Homo sapiens: one gene and its partners. The protein of the gene in region 4 purifies or fractionates together with the protein of the main gene of each other region. This does not show direct contact. Each region holds a gene or a part of one and is shown on either strand. Other genes may lie near its edges.

What was found.
Region 1: the proteins of CEP85 (region 4) and CEP44 purify together in Homo sapiens (affinity purification with mass spectrometry; 3 studies listed by BioGRID and IntAct, with this or other methods). This does not show direct contact.
Region 2: the proteins of CEP85 (region 4) and SOX13 purify together in Homo sapiens (affinity purification with mass spectrometry; 3 studies listed by BioGRID and IntAct, with this or other methods). This does not show direct contact.
Region 3: the proteins of CEP85 (region 4) and SOX5 purify together in Homo sapiens (affinity purification with mass spectrometry; 3 studies listed by BioGRID and IntAct, with this or other methods). This does not show direct contact.

What each region holds. Positions count from the first base shown.
Region 1 is NC_000004.12:174,314,887-174,320,829, forward strand, and holds the end of CEP44 (centrosomal protein of 44 kDa), read left to right. Parts: intron 1-1,279; coding exon 1,280-1,404; intron 1,405-1,643; coding exon 1,644-1,681; intron 1,682-2,448; coding exon 2,449-2,497; 3' UTR 2,498-5,442; downstream 5,443-5,943. UniProt on the Homo sapiens protein: Centriole-enriched microtubule-binding protein involved in centriole biogenesis. In collaboration with CEP295 and POC1B, is required for the centriole-to-centrosome conversion by ensuring the formation of bona fide centriole wall.
Region 2 is NC_000001.11:204,068,248-204,076,123, forward strand, and holds the start of SOX13 (transcription factor SOX-13), read left to right. Parts: upstream 1-4,867; 5' UTR 4,868-5,464; intron 5,465-7,876. UniProt on the Homo sapiens protein: Transcription factor that binds to DNA at the consensus sequence 5'-AACAAT-3'. Binds to the proximal promoter region of the myelin protein MPZ gene, and may thereby be involved in the differentiation of oligodendroglia in the developing spinal tube.
Region 3 is NC_000012.12:23,540,662-23,547,686, forward strand, and holds part of SOX5 (transcription factor SOX-5), read right to left. Parts: intron 5,764-7,025; coding exon 5,655-5,763; intron 2,724-5,654; coding exon 2,550-2,723; intron 1-2,549.
Region 4 is NC_000001.11:26,229,222-26,237,213, forward strand, and holds the start of CEP85 (centrosomal protein of 85 kDa), read left to right. Parts: upstream 1-4,978; 5' UTR 4,979-5,089; exon of another isoform or gene 5,090-5,427; intron 5,428-7,992. UniProt on the Homo sapiens protein: Acts as a regulator of centriole duplication through a direct interaction with STIL, a key factor involved in the early steps of centriole formation.

The DNA of each region.
Region 1 (5,943 bases), on a different chromosome or scaffold from region 4:
ATTCCAGTTCAAAGTGTGATGAGTCAAATTACATTCTCTCTCTTAGCATTTGGAATTAGGACACCACGAGTTAGTTAGTCAAATGATATTGAGCCTGGGCCGGGCTGGCCATGTGGTGGAAGTTTACGCTGATGAGTCAGCAGAGAAAGCCATTCTACAGAGAAGAGCTGAGGGATGGAGCAAATGGCAGAAGTAGGCAAAAGAGACTGTGGCTCTATGAGAGATAAAAATTAGTCTTCTAGTTGTTTCAGTTCTCAGTGGTAATAGTTTGTTCCCCAATTAAGGTTGTCTGTGTAGGCTTACAATAAAGCTCTCTTTATGTGAACCAATTTAAATGGGTGTCTAATTTTTTTTTTTTTTTGCATTGCTTTTGCAGCCAAATGTATTCTGACTGAAACACAGGGTTTGTAGGATTTATTACATTATCCGTAATCTTCTCTAATTGATATTTTTGTAGGGGAGATGCCATCATTTTGTCAAATTAATATTATCAGGATATTTGAAATGTTAGGTTTTTCCGTTTTTTAGAAAAAGAAATCTGTGGATCTTAAATTTTTGCATTACTTATTTTCATATATGTCAAATCAAGTTAGAATGTTTCTTGATTTTTAAAAGATATATATGGTCAGTTATAGTAATAGTTGTCACTTGCCACAGAACAGTAGTAAAAAAATTTGTGAAATGCTTAAATGTTGCTGAATAAAAGCATCATGACAAATTCATGGATACTAATTATTTAATGTAAATATCACCATTTTAAGAAAAGAATACGGTGAAACCCTGTCTCTACTAAAAATACAAAAAATTAGCCGGGCGTGGTAGCTGGCGCCTGTAGTCCCAGCTACTCGGGAGGCTGAGGCAGGAGAATGGCGTGAACCCGGGAGGCGGAGCTTGCAGTGAGCCGAGATCGCGCCACTGCACTCCTGCCTGGGCGACAGAGCGAGACTCCGTCTCAAAAAAAAAAAAAAAAAAAGAAAAGAATATACATGATTGATTCAATAGGTTATATTTTAAAATAAATTATTAACTTACCTGTTTATTCAAACTGATTGCTATCATGATAATAATACTGCCTTTTGTAATTTTTATTGGGCAATTTTTAACATCTAGATCTCCATATGAAAGCTGTTACCTTAAGAGTACTAAAAACTCTTTGATCTATGCGGATAGCCATTTTTAATTAAAATAGTATGTTTTTCTTCCATCTGTAAATAATATTTTTAGATATTTGACTCTTCTGTGAAAGGAAAAGGTAATCTAAAACTTAATTTCTTCACAGACAGAAAAAGCGAAGTAGAGAGGCCAGCAAGTATTCCTCTGTCCTCTGGCTATAGTACAGCATCATCAGATTCAACTCCCAGAGCCTCTACTGTTAATTACTGTGGTTTGAATGAGATTTCAGAGGTAAGAAAATGCTTAGATTATTTCCTTTCTAAATGAGGAAAACAAGCAAGCATTAGCTTTTGTTGTAAATATTGCTAGCAAGAAAAATAGCAAACGCGAATCTTAGTCTCTCAAAATTCTTTCATAAGTAAACAGTACTTAATGCAATGTTTCAAACTGTGTTTTGTACATTCTCGGTCCATCTTTGATGATGGTTTACTTTGAGAAATCATCTAAATTTGTTGCTTTTTAAATTAAAGGAAACAACAATCCAGAAAATGGAAAGGATGAAAAAAATGTAAGTAACAGAAAGGGGCAACAGAAATTCATTTCTCTATAGGGAATTGTATTGGATTACAGTATATATAGAATGTGCATGTGTGTTTCAAACCTTAAAGGTCTCTCAATCAGGTGTGGAATTTCCTTCAGGACTCCACTGGATAATAAATCCACCTACAGTTATGTGTTTGTGAGATGAGTCACTGTTTTAGTTTCCAACAAGCGATTTAAAACTTGTTGGAATTGTTAATGGAATTAACTGCAGAGAGAATACAAAGATATTTTTGGTTGGTAACTAATCAAGAGTATTATCTATTTTTGATAACTGATTTATCAAAATATTAAATAATATATATAGATGGATGGTTTGGAGACATTTTCAGTGTTGTGAAAATATCACTGGTGTTTTTCGGCAAGTTATTGATGAGATACTAAAAATGATGTTTTTGTCTAGTACAAATGGTGTGATTTTTCTAAAGAGCAGTTCAAAGGAAATATGAAATGAAATTGCATATAAGATGATTATGCAGCCTACTACTATAGAAAATTATAATATTATTTAGAAATGCAAAAAGTACTTAACTTACACTTCAAGAATATGACTCATAATCGACTCCTCTTTGTCTTCCCTCTGGTCATACTTAAGTTTATTCATAGTAACTGTACTTATAGATAAGAAAAATATTCAAATTTATTTTAGGCTAAAAAGCATAATTTCAACAACTAAAATGCTATGCTTTATTATGAATTATTGATTTACTTAATATATTATTTATTATATTTCAGGTTTGAAGAAACTGCAGAGTTACTGAAATGTCCAAATCACTACTTGTAGGATTTTCTACATGAACTTTTTTCTAGGACTTTGGTTACTATACATATTGTATATTTTAAGAATTCTTTATACAATTTTAATATACTGCAATACTGCAGTTTTTGACAATTTGGATTCCATTTGGTATATGAATTTTTGCATTCATTATTGAATAACTCTTTTAATATTTTTGAGCAATGATTATACTGCTTTACCTTGTGTCACTTTTTTTTTTTTTAGGAAAAACTCATGTTCCAGTATATTTCTCTTACAGAGTGAAGTCATTACAGCACTGTATTTCTGTGTTGACATTTGTTGGCAGTGTGCTAAGTAATGTTTTTTAAAGCACAGGCTTGAGGACTATGGTTTACATCCTGTTGGAAACATTCCAAATGGGACTTGTGTATTATACCCAGGAGGCTCTCATATATACCATCTTGGCATCTGTACTGATGAATAAGTTATAATGAACAGTTAAAAATGCTCATTGAAAATTAAATAAAACAAAAAGGCAGTTATTTCATGCTTGGTCAAAAACATCAATACCTTTCCAATTAACACTGAGAAATTAAGGTTAAGATTCTCCTTTTGTACTGGGAAACAGGCTGGAGGACTATGGTCCTCAAGTTTAGACCAAGAGGACTATGGTCTCAAGGTTCACCATGAGAAATGTGTTGAACATTTTAGTATGCTCTATTGTATAATTTTTTTGGAGGGGGGGATGGAGTTTCGCTGTTGTTGCCCAGGCTGGAGTGCAATAGCACGATCTTGGCTCACCGCAACCTCTGCCTACCGGGTTCAAGTGATTCTTGTGCCTCAGCCTCCTGAGTAGCTGGGATTATAGGCATGCACCACCATGCCCAGCTAATTTTGTATTTTTATTAGAGACAGGGTTTCTCCGTGTTGGTCAGGCTGGTCTCAAACTCCTGACCTCAGGTGATCTGCCTGTCTTGGCCTCCGGCGTAACACTTTTTAAGACCAGTGTAACAGAAAGAGAATGTAGCCATTCTAGCCACCGTTAAAAGATACACAGTGAGGTGTTGTGTTTTGTTTTTTTAATGATGAAAAGTTACACATTTTTTGGAGAGAAAAGTCTTAGCTGAAGGTAAATCAATGGAAAAATGAAATTTATTTTTAATATTACTACTATATGAATTATCTTTTTTTAAACTTGTAGATAAAAGTGTTCCAGTAATCAGAAAATCCTCAAGAAAATTGACTTCATTATTTGGAAGGAAAATTAGTATTTTTTTTAATATTATATGGACCATCTGATTATATTTTATTTATTCATCTATTTATGGTATGTATGTATAATTCTATATTACACTGTCAAATATAAAATATTGTTATATGAGTAGAAATCACTTAAATTTTTTTTGTGTTTGTGAATTTGAAACAGTGTAAGAAATCACTTTTAAGAAAACATTTTTAGAATTCCTTTGTTTTTTTTTTTTTTCTTTTTGAAACAGGGTCTCACTCTATTGCCCAGGCTGGAGTGCACTGGCGTGATCTCGGCTCACTGCACCTTCTGCCTACCGAGTTCAAGCGATTCTTGTGCTTCAGCCTCCTGAGTAGCTGGGACTATAGGCCTGTACCGTCATGCCTGGCTAATTTTTGTATTTTTGTAGAGACAGGGTTTCACCATGTTGCCCAGTCTGTTCTCAAACTCGTGAGCTAAAGCTACTCGCCCACCTGGATGTCCCAAAGTGCTAGATTCCATGGGTGAGTCACCATGCTTGGCCACATTTTTAGTATTCTAATAAACAGTTGGTCATCAGAACTTTAAAATGGTAGCCTACAGAAACATACAATTTTGAATTTAACAGAGTTTCAGTAAATATTTCCAGAATTAATGAAGCATGTTAGCTTTAATTTTTTCAATTGTGAGAGAAGTACATTTATAAAAATTAAGAGGTTAAGAGGTTATAGTTATAAGGGAAAAAACTTCTGTATCGATTAACTCCTAAAATATCAGTACCAGCATGGAATTATAGCACCACCTTGTGGTTAACATGCCAGTATTTTACCTTTTGTTAAAACAAGTGATTTCCCATCAAACAGGATAATATTTTTTCCCTTTTGAAAAATTCAATTTTAAAAAGAAACATTTTTGAAGTTTTCTTATGGAAGATAGAAAAAAAGTTAAGTCTCTTTCTACCCTTTCTTTTTTTCTTTATATAGTGCAGATATACACACAGAGAAGGGACTTAAAACATTTCTAATCTCCTAGTTTATATACAGTGTGCAAAATATAAGTAAGTATATATTGAAAATATAAAATATTTCATATATGTTATCAGGTGGAAATTTAGAATCCAAATTTTCTTAAACTTTAATAACTTGTCTAACAACTCTCTAATAGGGACTAAAAATCAACTCAATATATCATACATTTACACTTACAAAGAGTCTTTATCTAGACAACATAATTTTTGGAAAAATAAAGCAAATTCAACTTTATTGGAGTTATTGGACAGATCAGCAAATTGTTATTTTAAAAAGTTTTCTTGTTTAGGCAATTTGGTAAGTGGTTTCTAGTTATAAACTAGCCACTGTTGATTAACTTGAGAAGGTGAAGCAGGGGAGTTCTGAAGAGATTACCTAGAGCTACATAACCCTAAGTTAAGTAAAATTTTCACTTTCATTCTTTTCATTCTCTCATAAACTGGTTGAAAAAACACTGTACTACCAACAAAGGTGTCAGTTGCTTGTGCTGCCCTGTCTATGTTATGCTCTGAATAGGTCTCGGTAAAGATTATATGGAAATACTATAAAGAATACATAAGGTAAAATACTAGTCAGAAAGGGTTCAGAAGAAGTTAGCATCAACTGTATGAAAATTCTAGGTAAAGCTAAGTACTATTGAGTTGGAAAAAAGTAATTCTATCATGTTTGCTTGTTTTCCTCTACTGTTTTTAATGTGATGTTGTAATATATTTTAAAAATAAAACTTGAAAACGTTGGGACTTTGTTTCATGCCATTCATTACTCATAACTTTATATAATTGATACACTCTTCAGGAAGCATAAAAATTAATATAACCTTCTCAATTTTATAAACTACAACACTTTTTGAGCTCAAATAACATTGTAACTTTGATTTTTACTTTTTAACAGTCCCCAGGTTTGTCTCCTTTCTTTGAAACTGAAGGCATCAAACTGATCAGCGTGGAAGGAAGTGATGTTTATCTTAAGTCCTAAAGAGTGAACAGAATATAGCCAGGGAAGATGGTTTACGCAAAAGGACTAGCATAAACAAAGGCTTGAAAGGAAGAGCATTTGAAAGAAATTCACTAGGGCTAGCATACTGAGTGTGCTCTGTGTGTGTGTGTGTGTGTATGTGTGTGTGTGTGGCTAGAGGTCAGTTGACACAGGCCCAAGGGGCAGCTTGTATCTTATTTACTGAACCATTTAAGCAGCAGAATATGATAACCAGATCTGAGTTTTTGAAGGATTTATTTTAC
Region 2 (7,876 bases), about 180 Mb from region 4:
TGAGAGAAGAGACATTTTTGTTGAGACAAGAGGATGAAAAGGTGCCCACTCTAGGAAGAGGAGGGTTTGGGGAAGAACTTAACAGGTGTAAAGATTTTTATCGGGTTTGAAGTCTAGTTCAAGGCAGATCTTTCAATATGGGGATCTGATTGGGACTGGGCAAAATTTATAACAGTTTAGGATTGGAGGACATGGTGAAGGGAGGGTCTTGAAGAATAAACAATTGTTTGATAAGCTACTGGTTTGCCCAGTTAAGCAAACTATTGTCCCGAGAAGGGGGCTGTTTGAGCAGTCTATTGTTCAGATAAATTGATTTTCAGGAAGTTCCTGAAGGAAATAATGAAGTTATTTACCAGTTTACAGTCTTATCTTCCTGGGGAAGAAATTTCTGGAACAAATATTAAAGTCATGCAGATGTAGGCAGCCTCAGTGAAATGATGTCACCGCAGGTGAGGCCGTTGTAGTCTGGCTGAGTGGTAGGTAATTGTGGCCTGGACTAGGGTGGGGTGGTAAAGACAGGAATGGATGGATTGGGATATATTTTTGGAGATAGGCCAGTGACTCACTAAATTGATTAGATGAGCGAGAAACAATCACAGATGATGGCTAGGTTTTTGACTTGAGCCATTAGGTAGGTGGTAGTACCATTTACTGGATGGGAAAGAAGATGGTACTGGGTTGGGGATGATGGTTAAAGGTTCAATGTTAGGGTTAGGATGTGGAAGCCATCCTCACAGGGTTAGCAAGTATTACATGCTAGGTTCTGGGCGGAAATACTGTTATAATTTAACCTTAATAGGCAAGTGCGGTGGCTCACACCTGTAATCCCAGCACTTTGGGAGGCCGAGGCGAGAGGATCACTTGAGCCCAGGAGTTTGAGATTAGCCTGGGCAACATAGCAAGATCTTGTCTCTACACAAAATGAAAAACAATTAGCCAGGCAGGGTGGCTCATGCCTGTGTATGTAGTCCCAGCTACTTGGGAGGCTGAGGTGGAAGGATCACTTGAGCCCAGGAGGTTGAGGCTGCAGTGAGCCGTGACTTCACCACTGCACTCCAGCCTGGGTGACAGCAAGACCGTGTCTCAAAAAAGAAAGAAAGAAAGAAAAAGCATTAATTAGGTTGCACTTTGGCGCACTTCCTTGTTGCTAAAAGTTCCATAGAACCAGATACTGACCATTTGCATCCCCATTTTTCCTATAGATAGGATTTCTGATGTTAGAATCATAAGGCTTTTGTTGAAGAATCGATTTGCATCCCCATTGTTCCTATAGATAGGATCACTGACGTTGGAATCATAAGGCTTTTGTTTAAGATTTGCTTAAGATGTTTTTAGCTCTTGAGTTCCAGCAGAATGGCTGATGCCACCAGTTTGAAGACCCTCACAGAGGAGCGTAATCAGCATGAGAATGCAGTTTCTTCATCTCCCTGTCCCGTGACTCTGCGTCACGGGACATCCACAGTGATCCCCACACCTCGGCCCACTCCAAACCCCTTAAAATCCCTAGCCCCCAACTCTTCGGAGAAGCAGATTTGAGGTTTTCTCTCCTCTCCTTGTTCAGCCTTGCATTTAAAATTCTTTTTCTGTTGCAACCCTCGGTGTTGGTGTATTGACTTGCAGGCCCTCAGGCAATGGACCCATTACGGTTACAATGTCTGTGAGGCCCTGGGGTAGAAACATCAAGTGTGTGGTTGGATAATAGTCTTGGATATTAAATAATTGGGAGAATCATCACCACATAGTTGGTACTTAAAGCTATGGAAAAGGACAAAATTTTACCTAGGGAGATGTGGTAGGAGGAAAATAGGGTGTAGGAGAGAGCCCACAGGGAATGCCCACCTGGAGACCAGGATGGAGGAGGGAACATAAAAAAGGGTGGCTGGGAAAGAGCAGCCAGTGAGGTGGGAGGACTCAAGAAAGTGTGGACTCATGAAGTGAGTGTTTCAAGGAGTGGCTGACTGGGTTACATCATGTAAATTTGATAGTTGTTCCTGGGAAATGGTGCAGTAGTAGAGAAAATCTAGAATCTTCAGTCAGATAGCTTCCTGTCTCACTAATTGGAGCTTCATTTTTCTTATCTCTAAAATGGGATTCCAGGTACTCAGGGACTTGCAAAGAGATGGAATTAAATTAAATTAAAAAATAAGATAAAATGGGGATAATGACACCAACATCACAGAACTGGGATAAGGTACAAATAGATACCATATAGGAAAACAGTATTGTGCCTAAGACCCAGTAGGGAGACACTTTATATCTTAATTTGGTGGCAGTGAGTGGAAGGGCTGATCTTTGCTCTTCCTCTCTTAATCTGCTGTTGCTAAGGACAGCTGCAGGGAGGTACCCACAATCAAGTTGCCCCCCTGAAGATGATCAGGGGCCAGAGAAAAACAACCAGATATATGGAAAACACAGGCATGTTGTCTGGGAGGAGGAAAGTCTTGGTGGCACTTGGGTACCCTTTTTTTTTTTTTTTTTTTTAGACAGAGTTTCCCTCTTGTTGCCCAGGCTGGAGTGCAGTGGCATGATCTCAGCTCACCACAACCTCCGCCTCCCGGGGTTCAAGCAATTCTCCTGCCTCAGCCTCCTGATTAGCTGGGATTACAGGCATGAGCCACCACGCCCGGCTAATTTTGTATTTTTAGTAGAGATGGGGTTTCTCCATGTTGGTCAGGCTGGTCCCAAACTCCCGACCTCAGGTGATCCTCCTGCCTCAGACTCCCAAAGTGCTGGGATTACAGGCGCGAGCCACCGCGCCCGGCAATTTGGGTAACCCTTTCATGATTTCTAGGATGGCTTCATCCATAGTTATCCAAACATCAAGCCTTTAATGTTGGCTTCTCCCACTCTCTTACACCCACCTGTTTTCTCCTTTCCATTCCCCCTACTCCCAGCTTAGCTCAGGCCTGCATCATTTTTACCCTGGCCACTGCCATTGTCTGGTCACTGGCCTCCTTCCTACCTCCAGCTAGATTGATGCCATCTGAGACCTTGCTTAGAATCCTTCAGTGGCTCCCCATTTCCTTCCATCAACAAGTATTGATCAATAAGTATTTATGAAGGGCCTGCTCTTTCCCAATCTCTGGCTAGGCACACTGGAGAGATACATCCCTGCCCTTGTGGAGCTTACAGTCCAGGGCGGAGACAGACAAATGAATGGTTACCATATTATTTACAAATGGGGTTTTTCCAGAGCCCACAGATGGGGCACCTGGCCCAGATATGGCCATCAAGAAAGGCTTCAGGGAAAGTTGATGTCTAGGCTGAGACCTAAAAGATGAATAAAAGGAGTTAGCCAGGCAAAGCAGTGGGCAAGGATGAGCCCTTAGAAGGCCTTCAGAGCCTTGCTGACCATCACCTTTGAACACATGCTGGCCACCCACACTGTGGGCATAGACTTATTAGTAGGTCCATGATTGTCACTCCTTTAATCTGCCCTACACCCACAGGTCCTTCCAAGACCCATTTCAGATGCCACCTCCCCCAAGAAGTTCCAGTCCCCATATCCCAGTGTCTTTGGTGGCCCTGTGCCCATTTGCCTGCCCTATCTTAGCCCTCTCCACTTCACTGCAATGGTATATTCACCCATTCCTTTACAAAATCAGAATCCAGAAAGGGCAGGACACCGTCTCATTTGTCTTCGTGTCCCCAGCACCCCGGTAAGCCAGGCATAGGTAGACTTTTTTTTTTTTTTTTTTTTGAGACAGAGTCTTACTCTGTCACCCAGGCTAGAGTGCAGTGGTGCGATCTCCACTCACTGCAACCTCTGCCTCCTGGGTTCAAGCAATTCTTCTGCCTCAGCCTCTTGAGTAGTTGGAATTACAGGCATGCACCACCACACCCGGCTAATTTTTGTATTTTTAGTAGAGAGGGGTTTTCACCATGTTGGCCAGGCTGGTCTCGAACTCCCAACCTCAGGTGATCTGCTGCCTTGGCCTCCCAAAGTGCTGGGATTACAGGCGTGAGCCACTGCGCCCGGTCATATGTAGACATTTGATAAATACGTTGAATGAAAGGAAACCAACTCTCCATTCTCCCCCACCCTCCCATATAATGGGACAGGAGAAAATAAGATTTATTTGAGAGGCTGCAAATGACAGGATTAGGGAGTGGTTGGAGATATCAGGAATCCGTCTAGCTACAGGTGAGATCAGGTTTTGTTTTTTTTGAGACGGAGTCTCGCCCTGTCGCCCAGGCAGGAGTGAGTGCAATGGCGCGATCTCGGCCCACTGCAACCTCCCACTCCCGGGTTCAAGCGATTCTCCTGCCTCAGCCTCCCGAGTAGGGGGTTACAGGCGCGCCACCACGCCCGGCTAATTTTTTGTATTTTTAGTAGAGACGGGGTTTCACCGTGTTAGCCAGGATTGTCTCCATCTCCTGACCTCGTGATCCGCCCCCGTCGGCCTCCCAAAGTGCTGGGATTACAGGCGTGAGCCACCGCGCCCGGCAGAGATCAGGTTCTTAAGGGAAGTCCGGAGAAATGGGGTTTTTAAAAAACCCGAGTCCAGGCTATCTGTTTGGAGGGGTTGGGAGGCTTGGAGCTGGACCAATAACTTCTTAGGTCTTGCTTTAAGGAGTGAAGATTCTCTGTAGCGACCCTCATACCTGGGCAGTGGGAGCGGGCAGAATCCTTCTTTCTTCTCTTCTCTACACCCCCTCACTCCACCCCCACCCTTCCCCGCCGCCCGTAAACCTTAGCTTTCCCCTTTCCAACAGAGGTTTCCAGCTGTTGATGCCTGGATGGACCCGGCTGCAGGGAGGAGGAGGAAACTCTCTGTCCCTCCCTTCTTCTGCAAGTCCCCACCCTCCCTCCCTCCTCCCCCTGCGCGCTCTCGGTCTCCCTCCCTCTTTCTCCTCTAGGCTGTCCAGTCGCCTCGCAGCAGCGAGCCGCGAGCGCCCTTCTCCAGTCCCGGCTTGGAACTGAACTGTGTGAGCACGGGTCCTGGAACCCGGGCCCAGAACCGGCGAGCCCAGGTCTGAGCCCAGAGCTCAGCGGTCAGCCTCGTAGGCCCTGACTCGGAATCGAGCCGAGGCGCTGAGGTTGGAGCCGGAGAGCGTGAGAGCCGAAGAGCAGGGAGGGCGGGCCGGCTGCGCGTCCGACGAGTCGCAGAGCAGGACCGCGGAAGGCAGGGAGACGGCCGCAAGCCCAGGGCAGAGGGCAGAGGGCAGAGAGCGGCCTGGCTCGGCGGAGAGGGCGCCGCCCGGCCGGAACCAAGCTCGCCGCCCGGGACGGCGGGCCCCGTGGGGCGCGGACCCAGGGTGGCCGTGGGTCCGCAGCGACTCCCCGGCCGACGGCGGGGGGCGTGCCCCCTCCCAGCCCAGCCTCCCCAACCCGGCCCGCCCGCCGCGTCGCGGGGGCATGTGAGCGGGAAGCCTAGGCTGCCAGCCGCGAGGACCGCACGGAGGAGGAGCAGGAGCGCGGAGCCGCGAGCCCCGAGCCCCGAGCCCGGCGCCTGGCTGAGTAGTAAGTGCACCCCTCCCCGCCATGATCGCGCCGTCGCGCCCATTTCCCCAGCTCTCTGAAGTTTGACACTTGCGCCCCTACGTTTCTGGGCACCCACCGGCTCTCTTCCCTGCGAGTTTCCACCCTGTGCAAAGTTTTTCGAGGAGAGACGGACCCTCACCTACCCCCAACAACGCTGGGCAGTGGCGGCTCCTCCCTGGCCGACTTGGGTCCTTGTGGAGAGGGATGGCAGCCTCTAAGGCAGTGCGTGGCTGTGTGTGTGTTTGTGTGTGTGTGTGTGTGTGTGTGTACGCGCGCGCGCGCGCGCGTTCACCACGCGGGTCGAGCTTAGGGTGCACCCCCAACCCGCTCCTCGCCGACCGCAGAGGACTAGGTCTTTCTCATCAGCCCGACTATGCGCCTAGTTTAAGGATTTCTCAGCGGGAAGCCGAAGCGACCTGCGCGCGTCCTGCGTGGGGCTCAGGTGCCTGCGACGAGGCGCAGAGCTCCTCCACCATGGTTGCGTGGGGTGCTGGGGGACAGACGCGCTCCCCTTGCCACGGTTTCAGGGTCGTTCCCCAGCGGACCAGACCAGCGCGGCATCCTGTTTGTTTTCTGCTCCGGCTGCTCCTGTCCCACCCCCACCCCCACCGCAGGCTGCTTCTTGCTACCCCCACCTCCCGCCCTGGGATATCGTAGGTGAGCCTTTTCATCCCGATTCCGCTGCAAACGCTGATCGCGCCTAGGGGTAGGGAGATGCGGAGCGGGTAGTCGTTCAGTTCCCAGCGGCTCGCCATTGTTTTCCCACCCCGCGCGTTCCGTACGTAAACACACACGCACACACAAGGTTGTGTGTGTGCGCCGGCTCTGGCTGCTTCCCGTCCCCAGGCGCGCAGGGATCGCCCGCGGGATTCGCTCAGCTGCCCGCATGGGTCTTCAGGCTGGAGGCGCTCCAGGACTTAACTGGAGCTGGAGAGGACAAGAGACGTGGGGGTTGCCGGACAGTACCGGGCGGGGCGGTGAGCCGGGCCTGGGCGGGAAGTGAATTTTGAACTTCAGCCCTGGACCTTTCCGGGAGGACCCCGAGCGCTGGAGCGGCGGCTCCCGCCCTGGAGGGCCCGCGGCAGCTGCAAAGACTCCGCTGGCGCTCTTGGCAGCCGCCTCGGTGACAGAGGCTTGGAGGAAGCCGAAGAGTTTTCCTGGGAAGTTTGCTTTGACTCTCTGGGAATTTCCGGGCAGGACGCCTCGGCGCTGGCGCTGGCGCTGGCGCTGGTGAAGGGGTCTGGCCAAAGACGGCCAGAGACGATGCTGCTGGCTCTTGACCACTAGGCTGTACTTGGCTCTCAGCAGTCCAAGTAGGTGGGTCTCTACCTCCCGGAGTTCATGCCTTCCAAACCAGTATCCCCCAAAGGATCACGACATGCCGGTTTCAAAGATGGGTGCATAACTCTGCTCGTTTTGGAGTCCAGGGAGGCAAGCTCGGTTCCAGCCGGGCGGCGCTCTCCGTCGAGCCAGGCCGCTCTCTGCCCTCTGCTCTCTGCCCTGGGCGTGGGGCTGTCTCCCTGCCTACCGCGGTTGTGCTTTCGGACTCGTCCGACGCGGCGCCAGCCCGCTACCTCCCGCTCTCCCTCTCCCCCGCTCCCTGGCTCCCCGGCTCCCTGACTCCGTAATCTGCGCCTCGGCGCAGTTGCGAGTCAGGGCCTGAGGCTGACCCCTGTTTCCACTGTGCTTCATTAGAAAGCGCTTCACAAGATGCTGGGATTCAGCACATTTGGATTCCAGTTCCCCATCGATGAGCAGCGTGGGTTTGGACTTCCCCGCATGCGAAATGGGCAGAGTTATGCACCCAACTTTGAAACTGGCATGTCGTGATCGTTTGGGGGATACTGGTTTGGAAGGCATGATCTCCAGGAGGGTAGGGACCCACCTACCTCTGGATCATTAAGGGCCAAATATAGCCTAGTGGTTAAGAGTCCTGGAGCTGGAGTTAGATCCCGGATGCCACTGGCGGTGTGACTCTGGGCAATTTAACTTAACCTCTGTGCCTCAGTTTCCTCAGCCATAAAATAGGGTTAATATGAACGCTTCATGGGGTTGTCTTGAGGATTAAAAGACTTAATAAAGTGAAACTGAGAACAGTGCCTGGCACATAATAAGTGCTAGGTAAATATGAGCTATTATTGCCATTATTACTTAACTGACCTTGTACAGAGCCCAGAAGAGCACTTGGTGATTGTGCTCAACTAATCAATTATAACATTGCCCACTTCTGGAGAGGAGGAGATCTTGTACTCTCTCCCACCCTTGCCTGATTCCAGCCCCTCAGATCAAACGTATCCTTCTTACTCCTTGTCTAGTGCCATCTTCTCGAGTCTTTTTTCTTTTTCTTGTTTCCTTCCTTTCTCCCTCCCTTCACAACTTTTGTGAAAGCAT
Region 3 (7,025 bases), on a different chromosome or scaffold from region 4:
TGATCTAGCGCCAAGCAGTAAAAGGTGATTCCTTATGTTAACAATTTCAGCAGAATGGCTTATTAAAACCAGATTTTAGGGTATTATAAAATGCTTAGAAGCCCTTTAAAATGTCAACTACGATCCCCAGAGACTACGTAAAATGTCAACCCAGCTCAAGCGCCTGTTTTAAGCAGAATGAATTAGCGGCATGCTGTCGGAGGCTGTTATCCAAAACAATCAGCAAAGAGGAAAACATCAAGCTTTCTTTGTACTTTTGTATGAAATGGGTCATTTAGAATGATCTTGTGGATATTTGAAGATCACTTATTTATTTAAAGCTGTGACTAAATATTGAGCCCAAAATACCTCAATGTTTTATTTGTTCCTAAATATAAATGTTATATCTTTAAAGAATACATTTTCATCAGAAAGACTGAAATTAGGCAGTATTCTCTTTCATGTTGTCTATTATAATATAATCATATGGTCATTCTAATATTCTTTCCCTCAAATCAGAAGGGAATTCTCATAGCCAGTCATCTCTTTTCCATAGATACTTTTGCTACATTTCCTAAAATATCATTTCTTATCATCAAAACTGATATTTCTCTTATAGTTAAGATAGTTTTAATTAATGATTATCACCTTTTTGGTATTCAGACACAAGAATTGAATAATATAAAGACAGTTTTGAAATCTTAGTATTTAACTTGGTTTTTATTCTGACAATTTTGGATTTCTAATTTGGGAATAACTGATATATTAAAACATGAAATATGCTTACATAAAGTATTCTTTTCTAGAGTTTTCCCAAATGAAACTGGTATGTTGTTTTTTAAAGATAGGAAATTTCACATGGAAGGTAGAATATAGTCACAAAAAATATAGTCACAAAAGGGAAAAATAGATCAGAGCTGGTAGAGATGTAAAAAAATGTGTATTTCCTCTTGATCAGTTCAAGTTTTTGATTATGCATGATATATATTTTTACACACAGATTTTCATATTTTCTATGTATACTACTGAAAGCTTTGCATGTTCATGTCTTTTTAGATAACATTTAGGTGAAAAATGAGACACAATTTTAAGTGGCTAATGGTTTGTTTTGATCCCATTACAAATGCACCTTGTGGACTAGGTGGCATCTATTATCTTTGTTGAGAATATGGGATCATAAAAACATACGGCCGGGCGTGGTGGCTCATGCCTGTAATCCCAGCACTTTGGGAGGCCAAGGTGGGCGGATCACCTGAGGTCAGAACTTCGAGGCCAGCCTGGCCAAAATGGTGAAACCCTCTCTCTGCGAAAATACAAAAGTTAGTTGGGCATGGTGTCCCGCGCCTGTCATCCGAGCTACTCAGGAGGCTGAGGCAGAAGAATTGCTTGAACCCGGGAGGCGGAGGTTGCAGTGAGCCGAGATCACACCACTGCACTCCAGCCTGGGCGGTAAAGCGAGACTCCATCTGCAAAACAAAACCTCATGCATATGTTTGCCATTTATAGATGATCTGTAATGAATCAAAAGTGATACTATTTTTATAAACTCCGTGTAATTCCAAGTGCCTTACGAATTCTAATAAAACTTTAATAATTTTGACAAATTTTGTTACTTATTTGTTAAAACCAACATTTTCTGATAAAATGTTTCTATTCTATTTTTGTCACTTAACTCTTAGAAGTCACAGAGTGAATCATCAAAATTTTCTTAGGTTGTCTAGTATCTGGCCATCAGACAGTGATGAATGACAATGACAGTGATAATGATGTCAGATAAGGCACAAAAGCAATGGAATCTTCTTTTTTTCTTTTTCCCCCTGGGACCTGAACTGGTCTATAATAGGTATCTTTATAATCAGCACCCTTTCTCCCCAACCATTTTTCCTGTGTGCTACAGTCTCTGTGTGGGTAGAGTAAATGCGTACTTTGTTTTCTGTTCAATTGAATGTTGCAATGGCAGAAAAGTATTTAGTATGACTAAAAGTACCTTTAGTACTTAAGGTTACTAAAAGTATAAATGTAAAAATGTACACTCTACATCTTCTTGTGTTCTGAAAATCTAAAACTGATTTTCAATTATAGCACTGGAACAAACATCTTCCCCACCTCCACCCTCACCCCCACAACAAGATGAATTCCGCAAATAAAACTCCTTATCCTTCTGTTACAGAGGATGATGAGAGAGGAAGGAGGCCTTAAGATTAACAGTAAGTTGTCTATAGTATGCAAGGAAATGAATACAAATGATCAGTAGCAATATCTAGTGGCTCATGTGAAAGCAACTTTTTTCTCAGCTTTAGTAAAAATATTTCTAGATTTTTGAAGAAGATAAAGCATTAAAATAATTAGTATGAAGACAAACAGCTACATGAGCTATAGAAATATGGCATATTTCTCAATGGACATAGAATGCTTCATCACCAGAAGAAGCCTCAATGATGATGTTTATTTTCTGGATAAGCAAATAACACGACCTGTATGGCCTCCAAATCCAGGATCCTTCCACAACTGCAGAAAACAGAACAGTACCTTTATTCCATACGTCACTTAGTTCTTAATGGTTTTCTTACCCAATATCTTGCTGATGTTGGAGTTGTGCATGTCAGGAAAGGCTTGAAGGATCTTTCTCCGTTCATCTTTAGCCCACACCATGAAGGCATTCATTGGACGCTTTATGTGGGGTTCATTGCTACCACGCCCTCGGGATTCCCTATAAATTCTTGACTCTGAGACTCCAGCACTTCCTGAAAACAGGAAACATCACTTCGTGTTAGCGTTAAAACTTTTGTCAGCTCTTTTCCTTGCATTCCTATTTTTCAGTCTATTAAGATATCTGAAAAGAAAAAGTACTTCTGATAATGGTACTTCCAGTTCTTAAGACAGATGCTTGTTTATGAAGTTTTTCTGATAAGCCTTGTGGTGGCAAATGTTATATTTGTATTTTTAACCAATTTCTAATCTGTTTTCTCTTTCTTTCAATGGACTGTTTCACCATTTACTTTCAACAGCTCAAAATAAACTCCGATATGTGATTTTTGATGCAATTCGGAAAGAGGATAGTCAGATTAAATCAACAGGCATACCAGTAGTGTAGAAACATTAAATAGGTAAAGAAGCACAAATCAATTTGGCAGAATGGATGATTATAGGGGAGGATATATCTTTGCTACTTAAAGACTGTCTGAACATATAGTACCTTATGTTCTCTTTCTCTCTCCGAGGTTACAAAAATAAAAACACTGACCAAATTTTGAGGTTAAAAACAATATAGGTATTTCCCTGTAATATAATTGGCTTTTCTTTGAAATTATATGCTGACAAATGCATGACATATGCTGATACAGCAATGACAGGTCTGCCCCCCAAAATATATGTAAAACTGGTATGGAAAAGAACAAATGAACAGTTACATTCCTCTAGTTTCTTAAGGAGTCTACAGTCACATGTTTAAGATGAGAAAAATAATAATTTCCTTTGAATTTTCCCCCTAATATTTAAAGTTATCCAAAGAGTCCCATGGACAGTCACATTTCAATCAGTAAGATTCACAGATGATAAAACACAATTCAAGAGTTAACAACGATAGCTTTGGAAGCTGCATTCACTCCTCCAGCCTTATGTGACCCCTTAGAATGGCTTCAGCAGATTAAATTGCTTCCAAGATACTTGAGTTTAGGCAAAGAGAAAATAAGGAGAACCAGTAGAACTCTGACAGTAGGTTTTCACTGGGTATTATCACAAAATAAGTAGATGTATTTTGATAGTATCCAAAACTTTAAAAATACTTTGGGGACTTGTAGAGACTGTATTATCAACAAAAGCACTGCTTTTCTTTTCTTGCTTTGTATTCATTCCTCATCTTTTCTTTATTTTTAAATTTGGAGACACAGGAATCAAACAAAATTGCCCAAACTTGAAGACCTCTATAGCAGCACATTCAAAACATAGCATACCTGTTGGTGAAGTTTCTCAATATTTTTCATTAATAACATGCTCTTTGATTTAATGAAAAGTAGAAAATATTTCACATACAAGCATGATTGAATTTAGGTAATGACAGCAACAAAAACTTTGATGTGTTAATGCTGATTACTGTGGGTATATTTTATCATGCTAATACAACTTAAAATTTATGAAATGTGTTATTACCCGTAATTGTCTTTTATTGACAAAATAAGTGCAAATATATGGCAACATCTTCCTAAAATGGGTTTGTAACTAGCAAGTGATCATTTGCACATCTGCCTTTTCTTGTTCTTACACCTTACAGCAACATAAGCAATAAAATGAACATTATGTGTCTTCATCAAATCTAAACAAGCTCTTTAAATGTACATAGGCTAGGTTTATCTTAGCTAAGTGGAGCTGAAAATAGAAGAAAATGTTTGCAACATTAGACCCAGAAAAATGCAAATTGAATCCAATTGAGTAAAATTCAGTTTTGATAGAATTACGTGTTTCAACGTTCAGGTTTGTTTAGTCCCTTGATTAGTATAGACCTGGTCTTAAAAGTAGAATTGGCCCAAGGCACAGAGTAAACAGTTGTGTATATTGGAGGATTCAAGGGGACCCCCTCTCAAAGTATGCATCTCACTGGTTTGCCTTTGTGCACTCTTCTCTATATGCAGGGAACTTCCCTGTAGTAGTAACAAAGTTGAGGGCGGTACTGCCAAAGGAATGCTTAAAATGCATGGATGCCACCTGACAGTAGAGAGATGTTCCCGGTCAGGGTATTGTATAAGAAGAACAGCACTTCCTTCTTTTTCCCTCTTTGCTACGCTATTAAAAATCAGAGTATCAATTTAATTTCTTCTCACTGTGGATGTTTAGAATGTTCAGAGATGATACAGAAAACAGAAGTCTGAAGGCCTATGAGAAGGGAGCATAAAGCTGTGCAGCTGGTTTCTAGTTAGGTTATAGAGAGTGGGCCCGACACTTGACTATGTAGTACATAGCACTAGGGAGAAGGGTTCCAAAATGTAAGAAACTATCGTGGAAATGTCCTCTGAGCCATGTATTCTGGTGAGGGCTTGACAAATAGAAACTTAAAAAATGAGCCAATAGAAACAAATTTCTGAAAAAGTTCATTTTGGGTACAAGAAATAGGGAAGTGAGGCCGCATGCAGTAACTCACGCCTATAAAACTAGCACTTTGGGAGGCTGAGGTGGGAGGATCACTTGAGCCCAGGAGTTTGAGACCAGCCTGGACACCATAGTAAGTAAGTCCTCATCTCAAAAAAAAAAAACAAAATTGCTGGGCATGTTGGCATGCACCTATAATCCCAGCTACTTGGGAGGCTAAAGTGGGAGGATCACTTGAGCCTGGGAAGCTAAGCATTTTGAGCATTTGCTTTAGAATCATGCCATCTCGAATTTAATTCTTGCCTCTGACACTTAGAGCCCTGTGACCTGGGGAAAATGCTTCAAAACTCCTGAGGCTCAGGCTCTTTCTCTGCAATGGGACTTATCCTAGGTTGACTAGGAATTAAATGAGACGATTTCTGCAAAGCACTCAGCAGAGTGCTTGGCACATGGGGACTGCTCAGTATATGTGACCTCTTATTGTAATGATGAGGTATGAGGTGGCTGTCTAGTCTATTTTTTAGCAGTTTTAATTGGCACTACCTAGACACTTTCTTGCATTATTAGAATATGTATGAACAATTTTCACAAACCATCAGAATCTCCACTCAGATTGAAATCCATCATTGCATGGCTAAATTTTCCTTCTTCATTCTGTTTAACTGCCAGTTGCTGAGTCAGACTCTCCAGTGTTGTTTTTTCCTTTAAAAAAATTATAATGAGAGATCAGTCTAGGAATTAAAATTATTTGAAGACTTTCTTTTTTTGGGCCACATATATAATACATTAACTCCTGGAAAGGATGCAATGTTGATATATTCACCTTTTTACGTTCAGCACATTAACCTGAAGTCATTAAGGGGATGATCAGCACGATTTTTGAAGGAACTCTGATTCTCATAGACCCCTATAAAGTCTTGGCGTTTGGGTTTGGTATGCCTAAGGGATATATGCCGGGATCCTTGGAGACAACCTTCCCAAATTACAAAATGTGCACAGAAATTTCATGGAAGCAACCTGTTTTACATTTGGAATGTCTGCTTTATTTTTGGCCAGACAGTAGAAGTATAGGAGTGGCGTGAAGCCCAGAGAAAGTCTTCCAATAGTCAGGTGACCAAATAATAGAAACATAATTCACAGTAGTGCCCTCTGGTTGCCATCTTCCCAAATGCCATCTGCATTCCTCATGCAAGGGTAATGAAGACGTTTAAATATTCATTGCTAATTGCTTGTCAAGTCTCTGTACATCCAATGTGAGTGCCTGCTACTTGGACCACAATTTGATTTGGATTGCTAAGCCAAAATATTGAGTTGGCGAATTATTTGAGATACAAATATACCAAAATTAGATCTACAGAGACATCAAGTTGTTTAAGCATGCAGTGCACGATTCACATTCATGGAGAACATAGCATTTCAAAATAAATTATTTTTAAGAAAAATATAATGCTTAATCTAAACCATATGAGACATTACTGTCAAATTAAGAAACTGGGTGACTTTAGGAACAGAAAAAGCATATAATGAAACTTGATAACTTTCTCGTGAACTCTCCAGCACTGCTCTGAGGATGATGTAGTACCAAACAGCACCAAAACAGTTTTAAGAAATGCATCCATTGGATCTCATAACATTATCTCAAGTTTCTTTATAATTATTCACCTCATTTTCTGAGGAACATAGTCATGAATCATACTAGTGAACGACATACACTGCAGAACTGCTATTGACACAATAAAATGTTCACAGAAAGTAATCAATGATGTAAGATAATTGTATTACAGGTAAAGGGCCCAACTAATGTTCCCACCAAGAACTAATGAGATATTGAAATTCTTAACACAGTACATGCTTTATCTCAATGAAGTCTCTGACAATGTGACAACTGTACATACTAAATTAAAAAATCTCTTAAGTCAGTGGCCTTGGAACTCCTGTACTCTATTCATCAAATTATGTACATT
Region 4 (7,992 bases):
ATAGCTTGAGCCCCAGAGTTTGAGAGCAGTCTGGGCAACATAGTGAGACCTTCTTGAGACCTTCTTCTCTACAAAAAATTTAAAAATTAGCCAGGAACCTGTAGTTCCAGCTACTCGGGAGGCTGAGGTGGGAGAATCACCTGAGCCCAGGAGGTCAAGGCTGCAGTGAGCTGTGTTCCTGCCACTGTACTCCAGCCTGGGTGACAGTAAGACCTTGTAAAAAAAAAAAAAAAAAGCTAAATTTAATTTAAATTTAACAGTCTTAATATTTCATTTGCAGGTTGGCCGGGCACGGTGGCTCACACCTGTAATCCCAGCACTTTGGGAGGCCGAGGCGGGCGGATCATGAAGTCAGGAGATCGAGACCATCCTAGCTAACACGGTGAAACCCCGTCTCTACTAAAAACACAAAAAATTTGCCGGGCGTGGTGGCGGGAGCCTGTAGTCTCAGTTACTCAGGAGGCTGAGACAGGAGAATGGCATGAACCCGGGAGGCAGAGGTTGCAGTGAGCCGAGATCGCGCCACTGCACTCCAGCCTGGGTGACAGAGCGAGACTCCATCTCAAAAAAAATAAATAAATAAAAATAAAAAAAATAAAAAATAAAAAATTCATTTGCAGGAACATTTTGTTGTCTTTAATGCCTTAACAGCTCCTGAAAAAAATCATGTCAAATGATCAATCCATGTTATTTTTTCATGCACATCAAAGTCACACATTTATTAAATCAGCAATAAATTACATTTCATTGTGAATTCATATTGACTTTATACGTCTGTAGTAGACTTTAAACAGTCCTGCTATCAAAGGCATTAGCCCTTGCCGTTATTTAAAATGTATCCTGGCCAGGCACTGTGGCTCACGCTTGTAATCCCCACATTTTGGGATGTTGGGGTGGGCGGATCACCTGAGGTTAGGCATGCAAGCCCAGCCTGGCCATAATAGTGAAATCCTGTCTCTACTAAAAATACAAAAATTAGCTGGGTGTGGTGGCAGGTGCCTGTAATCCCAGCTACTCGGGAGGATGAGGCAGGAGAATTGCTTGAACCCAAGAGGTGGAAGTTTGCAGTAAGCCGAGATTGTGCCATTGCACTCCCGCCTGGGTGGCAGAGCAAGACTCTGTCTCAAAAATAAATAGATAAAATATATCCTGAGGGAAGAAGGGAAGTAGAAAAAATATATACATATATATCTTGAAGGATAAGGACAAAATATTGACTCCGCTTAAATATCTCAAAAAGAAAATAAATGAAATAAAATTAAGTAAACAAGGAAGCTATTGCATTTAAACTAAATTAGTTGACCATGTTAAAGAAGCCTCAGTGCTGTGTAACAATAGATGCTTATAAAATAATCCACCAGACCACACAGTGCATATGAAAGTGATAACTCTAATTATATGATTGTAACTAAGTTGCAATTTTTTTTTTATACTGAGGTGGGTCACATCTGGACTAACCCTGTCCCTTTTCAGTCATTAAGTCAGTGTACTTGATATATTTTATTAAAATATTCAGTGATATGATTTCGCTGTGTCCCTACCCAAATCTCATCTTGTTCCCATAATCTCCATGTGTCATAGGAGGGAACTGAAGGGAGGTAATTTAATCATGGGGGCGGTTGCCCTCATGCTGGTCTCATGAAAGTGACTTCTCACAAGATCTGATGGTTTTATAAAGGGCTTTTCCCCTTTTTGCTGGGCACTTCTCCTTGCTGTCACCATGTGAAGAAGGATGTGTTTGCTTCCCCTTCTGCCATGATTGTAAGTTTCCTGAGGCCTCCCCAGCCCTGTGGAACTGTGAGTCAATTAAACCTCTTCCCTTTATAAATTACCTAGTCTCAGGTATGTCTTACCCAGTGAACATTAGTCTGTTCTCACCGTGAGAACAGACTAATACATCCAGCTAGTCTTTTAAAAATAATAATGTAACTGACAATTTAAGAATATCTTATATTGGCCAGGCGCTCACACCGGTAATCCCAACACTTTGGGAGGCCAAGGTGGGTGGATCACAAGGTCAGGAATTTGAGACCAGACTGGCCAACATGGTGAAACCCCGTCTCTATTAAAAATACAAAAATTAGTCAGGCATGGTGGCGTGCGCCTGTAGTCCCAGCTAATCAGGAGGCTGAGGCAGAAGAATCGCTTGAACCCGGGAGGCAGAGGTTGCAGTGAGCCGAGATCGCTCCACTGCACTCCAGCCTGGGCGACAAAGCAAGACTCCATCTCAGAAAAAAACAAAGAATATATCTAAAGAGGTTGGTCATGAATATTCTCTGAAACTAGGACCAAAAGTCTCTGTTAAAATATAAATGAGCTGAGAGTGGTGGCACATGCTGGTAGTCCCAGCTACTCTGGAGGTTGAACGGGAGGATAGCTTGAGCCCAGGAGTTTGAGCCCAGCCTGGGCAACATAAAGAGACTCCTTCTCAAATGCATGTGTGTCTGTGTGTGTGTGTGTGTGTGTGTGTGTGTGTTCCTCCTTTGAAACAATTTTCCAGTCTGATTCTTCAAGCTCATATTAACGCAAATGGACTTAATGGTTCCTTTTCCTGGGGACTAAGTTTGGGGAGGAAGGCAGGACTGATTCCTTACCCTTCAAACTAAACCCTGGTCACAGGCTGACCAGTGCCTCCAACCCAGACCAAGCCCTGACCCTAGCCTCAGACTGTGCAATAACCCTGACTAGCATATATGTATATATATACATATGACAAGTCATTCACATTTGAAAATTGGCAGTAGGGCCGGCCACGGTGGCTCACGCCTGTAATCCCAGGATTTTGGGAGGCCAAGGCGGGCAGATCACCTGAGGTCAGGAGTTCGAGACCAGCCTGGCCAACATGGTGCAACCCCGTCTCTACTAAAAATACAAAAATTAGCCGGGTGTAGTGGTGGGTGCCTATAGTCCCAGCTACTCAGGAGGCTGAGACAGGAGAATTGCTTGAACCTGGGAGGCAGAGGTTGCAGTGAGCTGAGATCGTGCCACTGCACTCCAGCCTGGGTGACAGAGCAAGACTCTGTCTCAAAACAAAACAAAAAAGAAAATTGACAGTAGATAATGGAATTACTTTTAAACTATAGATATCTATTACAAAGAACTGTACAAATGTACTGTTTGCTATTTGTAAATTTAAATCTCAACACTTCCACTATGTTTCCAGTCGGATTTCTCTTCTATCCTCTGTATCAGCAATTCACATCTTCCTAATTCTTCTCAGTCCTCTAGATGCCCCTGTTCCCTCCCTCCTCACATATGCCTTTCACAAAAGAAATGGAAGCCTTTCAATGTTTTCTGACTCTTCTTTCTCTTTCTTTCTTTCTTTTTCTTTCTTTCCTTCTTTCCTTCCGTCTTTCCTTCTTTCCTTCTTTCTTTCAGAACCTCGCTCTGTTGCCCAGGCTGGAGTGCAGTGATCTTGGCTCACTGCAACCTCTCCTCCTGAGTTCAAGTGATTCTCTTGCCCCAGCTTCCCCAGTAGCTGGGATTACAGGTGCCCACCACCACACCTGGCTAATTTTGTATTTTTAGTAGGGTTTTATCATGTTGGCCACAGGCTGGTCTCAAACTCCCGACCTCAAGTGATCCACCTGCCTGGGCCTCCCAAAGTGCTGGGATTACAGGCGTGAGCCACCGTGCCCGGCCAGGACTAACACTTTCTAGCTTTCTACCCTTCAGTCCATAAATTTATTCATTTAGACACCCTGTCTTAACATTTTTTTTTTTAGCCTTTACGTTAACAGAGGCTTCTGGTCCTAATTTCATATCATACCCAGGTTCATTTTCATTATCCATTAAATCTGCTATTTTATGTCTTCTATATTCTTATCTTAAAATACTAAAAGAGAGGACAAAGGATACAACCTTGGGGCACATCCCTAGGGTCTTTCCTCTAGAGTGACTTTTATTCAGTAATGAACTCACTTTGTCTGGCTCTTAAAGCTAAGAAATTATACAACTTTTTTTTTCCATACAACTTTTTTTTGGAGTGCAGGGGCACGATCTCGGCTCACTGCAACCTCCGGCTCCCTGGTTCAGGCGATTCTGCTGCCTCAGCCTCCCGAGTAGCTGGGATTACAGGTATGCGCCACCACACCCAGCTAATTTTTGTATTTTTAGTAGAGACGGGGTTTCACCATATTGGCCAGGATGGTCTCGATCTCCTGACCTCGTGATCCGCCCTCCTCTGTCTCCCAAAGTGCTGGGATTACAGGCATGAGCCACCGCGCCCGGCCTCCTATACAATTTTTTAGTATCTCTCCCTGCCAAGTCAGGTTTCTAGATACCCAGAATTTCACTATCTGAGATTCATTCCTTTGGCTGATGGTTCTGTTCTCCTTTCAAACAATTTTCCTGTCTGACTCTTCAAGCGCATATTAATGCAAATGGACTTAACAGTTCCTTTTCCTGTGGACCAAGTTTGGGGAGGGAGGCAGGACTGATCCTTTACCCTTCAACCTGAACCTTGGTCACAGGCTGACCACTGCGTCCAACCCAGACCAAGCCTTGACCCTGACTAGTCAGTGACCCAGGCCACACCCTAACTCCTGGTCACAACCTGAACCCCTGCTTCAGGTGTGAGAACTGATAGACCGGCGTTGGAATGGAAGGAGGGTGAGGCAAGCTGAGTGGGATTCTCGTGTCCCCAGCCCCGCCCGCGGGCCGCCAGCTTCCCAACCTGCACAGGCCCAGCAGGGCCCCTCCAGGTCTAGGTGAGCAGAGCTCCACCTACAGGTAAAACGCGGCAAGGGGCAGAGAAGGAGCCAAGTGGCGACGTGGTCATGCGCAGAAAGATCCGTCCGGCTCTCTGAGCAGAGGGTAGCGTGTGGGGGCGGGATACCGACGCGGCTCGGCTGCCGATTGGTCAGAAGAGGATAGAAAGGGGCGGGAAGCCGGCGCGGCTCGACTCCCGATTGGCCAGAGGCGGCAGAACGGGGTGGGGCCAAACGACGCGCGTTCTGTGGCGCGCGGCCTGGCGGGCGTGCAACGGCCGTTAGAGGAGCTGAGGGAGGGAACCACCGCTCACCGCAGACGTGGTGGCTGCAGTCAGTCTTCCCGAGTGAGGGATTTCGCCGCCCGCTTTCAGGCCCGTGTAAGTTTTCCTCCTTCGGGAGCCTCAGTCCTAGTGGCCGACCTTGCCTCTCCTCCCATAGCTCCGGCGAAGCCTCAGACGCTCGCGACCTGCCACCGTGAGGGGCCGGGGAGAGCGAAGCGCATGCGCCTCGGCTCCGAAGCCAGTGCCCCGGCATACGCCCTCTCGCGTCCCATTCCCCTCGCTTCCCCCGTTGCCTTGCTTTGCCGTCCGTGGTTCACCCCACGGCAGTCACTTTACCTGCGTGCCAGGCCCTGTGCCGATAGCCAGGGACACAGCGAGCGGCGCATTCCTTGCCCTTGCGGAGCGCACAGCCCTGGGAGTCGACGTTAAGCGGGGTAATCCCTCGGCGCGCAGTGAGGGTAGAGTGGAGAAATCTTACAAAGAGCGCAAAACAGAAGGCGCGGATCTAGTCGGAGAGGTCAGGGAGCCCTCCCCGAGGAGGAGAAGTTTGAGCCGAGATTGGAAGGCTGTGTAGAGAATTAAGGTTGTGGGACGGAAAGCACTTGGCGGGGCCTTACCCCGGTACTTCTCGGCCGGGGCGATTTTGCTTCCCTGGGGACATTGGTCGATGTCTGGAAACACTTTTGATAGTCACAGCTCCAGGGCTTGCTACTGGCATCTAGTGCGAAGAAGCCAGGGATGCTGTTACACAGCCTACTGTGTGTAGGACGCCCCCAACAACAAAGAAAAATCCCCCAAAATGTCAGTAGGGCGGAAGGTGAGGAAGCTTCCTTCAGCGAGAAGGAGCTGGTGCTTTGGTTGAACTGAAAGTTAGTGTGTTCAGGTTTATTTGTTCAACAGTATATTCAACGCTTACTTCACCTCAGTTAATGAGAGCGATCCTTTACACCAGTACATTCCCAACACGTGGCTCAGAGCCAGGCGCATAGTAGGCACGCAGTAAATTTCGGTTGATGAATTGAACACTGGGATAAGTAGGGGGCGGTGGTGATACAAGGACGATGAAGCTAGCCAGGCCTCATTTATTTGCCCTCAAACCTTGTCTGCTTTATAGTGATCTGGTGGTTTTGTATGTCTCACGACTTTTCTTTGTAAAGGCAACTTCTTGTCAAGGATTTGGCTTCTCTTTCACAAGGTTTAATGAATGATCAAGGCGGTGAAAATAGTGTAATGGTGTGAGATCCTTCGTGTGTCTGTGTCAGCTGTCTGTGTATCCCTTCAAATCCTCTCTTGTCTTGATGTGGTTCTCTTAACAGCTGCCAAGCATGATGTTCCACACTTAGATTGTAATTCTTTTTTTTTTTTTTTTTTTTGTGAGACGGAGTTTTGCTCTTGTTGCCCAGGCTGGAGTGCCGTGGCGCGATGTCGGCTCACCGCAACCTCCGCCTCCCAGGTTCAAGCGATTCTCCTGCCTCAGCCTCCCGAGTAGCTGGGATTACAGGCATGCGCCACCATGCACGGATAATTTTGTATTTTTAGTAGAGACGGCGTTTCTCCATGTTGGTCAGGCTGGTCTCAAACTCCCGACCTCAGGTGATCCGCCCGCCTCGGCCTCCCAAAATGCTGGGATTACAGGCGTGAGCCACCACGCCCGGCCACACTTAGATTGTAATTCTTATAGGGGAAAAATACTTACGGCAGTCAAAATCTAATTCTTGGGTAGCAACTTGAGAAATAAAGCCTAGGTGATGACCAAGGACAAAGTGAAGAAATTTTATGAGCTTTTACTGCTCATATAATTGAGGCTTGCAGCTCTAGCTGTCTGAGGCAGAAACTCCAACTTGTGGTGCCATGCTTGATCTCTTTTTTTGTGTTTTGTCACATGTAGAATGCTGACTAGACTACTGTAGCGTTAGAGTACAGTCCTGGCTTTGAAGCCTCTTCCTAGCCATATGACCTTCACTACTGTAAACCTTTATTTTCTCATCCATAAAATGAGGATAATAGTAACTGCCTCATAGGGTTGATGTGAACATGAAACATGAGACATGATACTTAAAAAGTGTTGAGCACAGTGTTTGATAGGTAGTAAGTGCAGAATGCATGTTAAATTTGTTGAATGAGTGACTGTTTCTGTAGTTTAAAGGGCTTTGAAGATGGAAACCAATCCTGTTGGGTGCTTTTTTTTTTTTTCCCCTCTGTCTGCCTCCATTCACTCCCTTTCTAAGCTTTATAACTGGTGTGTTACTTCTTGTACATTCACTTCTCTCATTTTTATCCCAGGAAATTTCTGTCTCCTTCAGTTGTCCCAAAAATTTCCACCAGTAGCTCATCTAATTCTTAAGTCAAGAATGATTTATTTTGTATTGTTTTACTCCTTACGGGGTTTCTTTCTTTCTGTTTTTCTTTTTTGAGATATTTGTTGTCAATGAGGGTCAGACTCTGAAATATTTGAAGGGATTTATTCTGAGCCAAATATGGGTGACCAGTGGCCCCTGACACAGCCCTCAGGTGATCCTGATAACGTGTGCCCTGGTTTTAAACATTTTAGGTAGACATGAGACATCAGTCAAATACATGTAAGATTTACATTGATCTGGAAGGGTAAGACAACTCTTAGTGGGTGGGGGCTTCCAGGTCATAGGTAGATTTCAAAATTTTCTGATTGGCAGTTGGTTGAAAGTTGTTATCAATAGAAAGGAATGTCTGGGTTAAGGTATCCTGGGGATCAACATTTTATTGTACAGATGAAGCCTCCAAATAGTAGGCTTTAGAGAGAATAGATTATAAATGTTTCTTACAGACATCTGTGTTAATGTTAATGCTTTTCCTAAATTCCAGAAGGGAGGAGGGTATAATGAGGGGTGTAGGACTCCACCACCACTACCACCATCATGGCCTTAACAGGTTTTTCAGCTTAACTTTGGAATGCCATTGGCCAAGGGGAGGGATCCATTCAGGTGGTTGGGGATGTCTTAGAATTTTTTTTTTGGCTTATA